Linked DNA regions of Homo sapiens: region 1 is linked to region 2. Evidence: fine-mapped expression QTL. A gene starts in region 2. The other region holds a variant in brackets. All regions are shown on one strand. Distances are from middle to middle.

Region 1 (2,892 bases), 22 kb before region 2:
TGGCTCTGCCCATCCCTCACTCTCTCTCCGGTCTGAGGTGGGCGGTGGCGGGTGCGGGGCCCCTGGGGGAGGCTGGGGCCGCTGAGACCTTCGGATGCCACCGGAGGGAGGGCCTGGGGCTTGGGTTTCCTTCTGCTCCAGTCACCGGGCTGGGTCCGGCCCTGGGTCAGCGGGGAGGGGAGCTGGACTGCGGCCCTCCTGGGCTCCTGTCCTGCCTGCCCGGCCGGCCCTGGAAGATCTGCGGCCACCTGTGTTTACTCTGGAGGATGCAGCTGAGGAGGTCCTGGCAGGGCCACACTCGTAACCCCTGGCTTCTCAGCTGTGGGCGCGGTCTTGCACCCTGGCTAGCTGAGTTGAGGGGACTTTGCGGCATCTGTGGCCCCGACCAGGGCAGAGTACCCGAGCCCCAGCCCAAGGAGAGGCCTCGCTGGGCAACGCGACCAGGACAGAGGCCGAGGCTGGATGGGTGGGGAGCGCCTGGGGCCTTCCAGATCCTCCTTCCTGCCCCTCCCGCCTCCACCTCCCTTCAGCCCCTTGGCTGCAGCCAGCTCTCCTGGGATCACTCATCCACTGTCTACCTCCACTGGGAACCTCGGTGAGGGAGGCTCAGATCCTTGGGGAGGGAGGAGGGGGTGGGCCCCAGAGAGACCTTCCGAGGAGGACAGGGTGGGGCCAGATCTTGGTTCTTCTCCTCGGGTGGTTCTGACCTGGCCAGCGTGGTGCAGTGTGGCCATCAGGGCAGGGCTAGCGGCACCAGCATCTAGCAGGGAGGGTGCGGAGGGCAGGGAGGCCAGAGAAGGAGGGGCTGTGAGTGCTGGGGGTGGGGACCCACCCTGGCCCTGAGGGAAAGGAGTGTGTACACCCACAGAGGCCAACTTGATGGGGTGGCCTGGGTTTCAGCTCCCAAGGCTGTGGGAAGGTCCTCTGGGTGGGGGCTGGGAGGAGACCTCAAGGGGAGGCCCAGGGGTTTGGGCTGTGCCCCCTCAAAAGCCTCCTCTTTGAGGACCCCAGAGATTGGCCAGGCCTGTGGGATGGACACAGAGGTCTTTCCCCTCAGCCCACAGTGGGAGAGGGAGACGCCAGCTCACCTCAGAGTAGGAAACCAGGAAAAAGCGCCAAGCCCTTCCCAGGCCCCTGAAACCAGGGAGCAGGCCCCACACAGCCAGTCCAAGGAGCTGGAAACTTCTGACAGGCTGCTGTGGGCCCAGGAAGCAGGGCCTTGCGCGAACAAGGGGCCTCCTCTCTCCTCCCGGCCCCGCTCTGGGTGCGGAGGGCCTGGCACGCACCTGTCTCTGGCCACCTGCTCCCGAGGACTCCCCAAGCCGTCTGGGCCGCTGGGGCTTCCATTCCTGCAACGTCAGCTGGTCTCACAGTGCCACAGCTGGGGAGCCTGGGGCCGGTGGGGCCACAGGAGGGCCGTGACCCCCTTAGACCTGAGGACTCTGAGCTGGGACAGTCAGCCAGGGAGAGGGTGGAAGAGTCTGGGGTGACCCAGGCCGCGGGGGCAGCCCTGCTGCAGGCTGGACTGATGGAGGCCTGCCGGGAACAGGG[T/C]GTGTGCTGAGCCCTGCGGGGAGGAGATCTGGGCCCAGTCAGTGCTGGGCGTCTGTGATGCCACAAGGTTGCAGGAGCCCCTGCCTGCGTCTGCACCGAAGAGCGCCGGGCACAGGGAACTGGGCTGGCATCCTGGGGCTGCTGGACGGGGCGTCTTCCCTCGCAGCCCTGGAGGCCACGCTCCTGACTCTGGGTAGAGCCCTTCCTTGCCTGGTGGGGTGGGGGTGGAGGGTCCTCAATCCTTGGCCTGCAGAGGCATCGCCTGGGTGTCAGTCTCTAGCCACACAGTGGCTTTTTCCCAGGTCTTTTCTGGTAAGGACACCAGTTCCGTGGGAGTAAGGCCACCTCAGGACCTTGCCTTAACGCAATTCCACCTGCAGAGACCCGACTTCCAGACAAGGTCAGTTTGTAGCTGCTGGGTTAGGGCTTGGAATATCTTTTAGGGGGCACAGTTCAGTCCCGTAACAGGAGCCTTGACAGCCAGGATCCCAGCCAGACACAGGTGGGCAGGTGGGAACCTGGAGGCCTCAGGGGCGGGGGTGCCTCCGGATGCAGGTAGCACTTTGCATCTTGGGGGTGACCAACCAGGCCACAGGCCCGGCGGGTACCCAGGGCTGGCCCAGAGAGCTGGAGCCAACGTCAGGTGCCTGCATGCCAGCCTCAGGGGGCAGAGAGGCAGGACCATAGTCCCCAGGAAGAGGGCAGAAGGGGGTGCTCTCCTCCTGGGGGATCCTGAAGGGACCAGAGCCCATCCTCTTGGCTTGACCTGCATTCCCTGCCGGCCCTGTGCCTCCTGGGGGCTGTGTGCGTGTGGCTGCGCCGTGCCCGTCCAGCCCTGACACTGTCCCCTCCATGGTAGGTTCTCGGGGCCACTAGAGGAGAAACATCCGTGTGGCTGAGGAAGAGTTGGCTGTTTTGTATCCCAAGTTCCCACATGGAAATGAATTCGGTGACCCCCCATCTCCCGAGGGCCTCCTGGTTTGGCCCTGGTCTCCGGGAACCGAGTACCTGGGTGGGTGGGGAGCTGTACAAGCTAAGACCAGGGAAGGACGCCTGGGGGACGGATGCCACGGCCCGTGCACGGTCGATTGGAGCCGCAGGGCAGGGAGGATCTACAGGGCAAGTTCCAGGTGAGACCAGAGAGAGCTGCAGCTGCCCCGGCTCTGGAAGCCCCCAGCCCTCCCGAGGCCCAGCCTTCAGCCCACGTATCCTCTGAACCCGTTCACCACGGTACGGCTGGGGAGGGTCAGCCTGGGGCAGGCTTTGTTCTGATATGAAATTTAATGTCTTAGGCTGAAAAACACTAAATTTCCATTTTTTTGTAGGTCAGAAGTGGTTGCA
Region 2 (2,878 bases):
GAGGGGCCGTGCCCCATCCTGGGGCCATTGCAGTTGCCAGCAATATGCTGGGGGTGCCCTCTCCATGGTGCACGGGCCCCACTCACTGCACCTGTGGGCAGATGTGGCCACTTAGGCCCCAGGAGAGCAGTGTTGCCCACCAAGACCCCCAGTTCACCTGAACCTCCAAGGAACCAATTGCAAATGTAAGCTTTTTCTCACTGTCAGTGGGAAACCCTTGTGAACGCTGGGTGGAACCTTCCACAAAATGCCAGAACTTTCCTCCTCTGCCCACCTGGGTTGGGGTGTGCACATGCAGGTACACACACTGTCTGGGATGCTCTGAGCCCTTCCAGGGTCCTCTCTACTTGTGGGGACGTGGGGAGGGTGACCAACTTAGGGACCCTCAGTCCGAGGGCGGGTGGCCTCTCCCTCCACTCCCTCCCTCTCCAGGGCCAGCGGGCTCCACGGCTGGGAATTTCCCCACGGGTGGGCCGAGGACAGGCAGCTGTTTCCTGTGCTCCTGGGAGGAGGGGATTTCCAGCCCCTTCCCTGCTGCTCTGTTCCTAGAGGCCCCTCTCCACTTGCAACTTCAAAAATGAACTTTTGGATAATCACAGGCTGGTCACAGTTATTTGAAAGGTGCAGAAAGGGCCCAGGGAGCCCCCAGCCCCGCACCTGCTCCCCAGCTCTCCGGGCAGTTCGCATCCTCTGGGCAAACCTGGAACCTGAGAACTGTTTGCATAGAAGGTGGAAACCTGCCTGCGTGCCCGTGTGCGCCAGGCCATCCAGGACCCACCCTCACCACCTCCTCAGAGGCCTGTCTCCAAACACTGCCACATGGGGGTTAGGGCTTCCACGCAGGAATTTAAGGGGCACAGTTCAGCCATAGACACCTGCCGTGCTCAGGCACACTCAGCGTGGGCTGTGGTCACGGGTGTCTTTTTTTTTTTTTTTGAGATGAGTCTCGCCCTGTCGCCCAGGCTGGAGTGCAGTGGCGCCACCTCTGCTTTGCAACTTCTGTCTCCTGGGTTCGAGTGATTCTGCTACCTCAGCCTCCTGACTAGCTGGGATTACCGGCGCCCGCCACCACGCCCGAATAATTTTTGTAGTTTTAGTAGAGACGGGATTTCGCCATGTTAGCCAGACTGGTCTTGAACTCCTGACCTCAGGTGATCCACCCGCCTTGGCCTCCCAAAGTGCTGGGATTACAGGCGGGAGCCACCGTGCCTGGCCATGGGTGTCTGTCTTACCATGGCTGTGGTCACTGCTGCTCAGAGCTAGTCTTGGGCATACAAGGGGGACCATGCTTCAGCAGTGCCACAGCCCTGAAGGTCCAGACTGAGGAGTTGCCTCTCCTGACTCAGTGCTGCCTCAGTTTACCCACGTGCTCCATGGACCTTTTTGCTGAGGGTCGAGCCGCAGGCCAGGCCCTACTGTGCCCTGGGGTCTGAACACGGTGGTCTTGGGCAGAAGAGGTCAGAAGGCAGAATAAGCCAATGCTGGGGGTGCCCAGACCCCGCCTTTGTGCCCAGCCCACAGCCAGGGTCCCCGGCCTGCCACCTTCCTCCTCCCGCCTCCTCTGCCCTCCTCCCCTCTCCCCTCCCCTCCTCCACAGTCCTTATAGCCACACCCCGCAAGGAAAACCCAGACTCTGGCGACAGCAGAGACGAGGATGTGCGTGGGGGCTCGGCGGCTGGGCCGCGGGCCGTGTGCGGCTCTGCTCCTCCTGGGCCTGGGGCTGAGCACCGTGACGGGGCTCCACTGTGTCGGGGACACCTACCCCAGCAACGACCGGTGCTGCCACGAGTGCAGGCCAGGTGAGGCCTCAGGAGGGGTCGCCACGCACGGGCACTCCAGGGACTGGGGGCTGGGGCAGGGATGGGCCAGCCAGGAGGCTGGTCCTGGGGAGGGGGCGGGTGAGGGGCCGGCCAAGCCTGGCAGAGGAGCCGCCTGGGGGGGTCCACGGGCGCAAGCCTGGGGCCTGACCGCTGCCTGACGCCGGCCTCTGCTGCAGGCAACGGGATGGTGAGCCGCTGCAGCCGCTCCCAGAACACGGTGTGCCGTCCGTGCGGGCCGGGCTTCTACAACGACGTGGTCAGCTCCAAGCCGTGCAAGCCCTGCACGTGGTGTAACCTCAGTGAGCTCCCACCTGGCCCCACAGCCCCACCCAGCACAGGGGGCGGCAGCCTGGCACCCACATTCCCACGCAGCAGCATGGGGCTCCCACAGCCGCAGAAACGAACCTCAAACCACAGCGGGGTCTGCTCCGCCACAGGGGTCCTTCGAGGAGCTGAGGCGTCTCCCAGGGGCACCCCCTCTCCCTCCGGGGGCCCAGACTCGGCCCAGGCCACGTGGAGTCGGGGAGACCACGCTGGCCATGTGGCCTGGCCTTGCTGGCCTGAGCAGTGAGGCTGGGGGGTTGGGCCATGGAGACCCTGCCGCAGGCGGGGCTGGCGGCTGGAGGCGGTGGAGGGGTAGGGAAGGGTGGCTGGGGCTGCCACGGAACCAGCCCCAGGTTGTGGCCAGGAAGGGAGGGCCCAGGAGCCTCGGGGGCTGCAGGGGCTCCAAGTCTCAGGGGAGGCCGCAGACCCCTGCCCACGGCCCTCTGTGTGGTGGGGAGGCCAACCTGTCCTCCAGTGCCCACGCTTCCTGAGGACCCTGTCCACAGCCCCCACCTGACCACCCCCCCATCCGGCCCCTGCTCAGGAAGTGGGAGTGAGCGGAAGCAGCTGTGCACGGCCACACAGGACACAGTCTGCCGCTGCCGGGCGGGCACCCAGCCCCTGGACAGCTACAAGCCTGGAGTTGGTGAGCTCGGTGGCTGCGGCCGGCGGTTGGGGGTGTGCATAGCGGCTGTCTGTGACGCAGATGGGCCGTGGGCCGCAGGGACCTGGCC

Evidence for each region. PIP is the estimated chance that this variant, and not a neighbour inherited with it, causes the effect.
Region 1: its variant is fine-mapped to the expression of TNFRSF4 in whole blood (TOPMed, PIP above 0.99).

Annotation. Positions count from the first base shown.
Region 1 is chr1:1,234,963-1,237,854 of GRCh38, reverse strand. B3GALT6 (beta-1,3-galactosyltransferase 6) reads right to left here. Exons shown (of 1, transcript NM_080605.4): 1 at 2,814-2,892. Among named protein-coding and RNA genes, the nearest start is that of B3GALT6, 4.2 kb to the right of the region's middle. The variant T/C (reference allele first, on the strand shown) is at 1,552.
Region 2 is chr1:1,212,904-1,215,781 of GRCh38, reverse strand. It overlaps TNFRSF4 (TNF receptor superfamily member 4), which reads left to right and starts at 1,629. Exons shown (of 7, transcript NM_003327.4): 1 at 1,629-1,799; 2 at 1,997-2,119; 3 at 2,689-2,790. The coding sequence starts at 1,655. RefSeq lists a silencer at 2,502-2,551.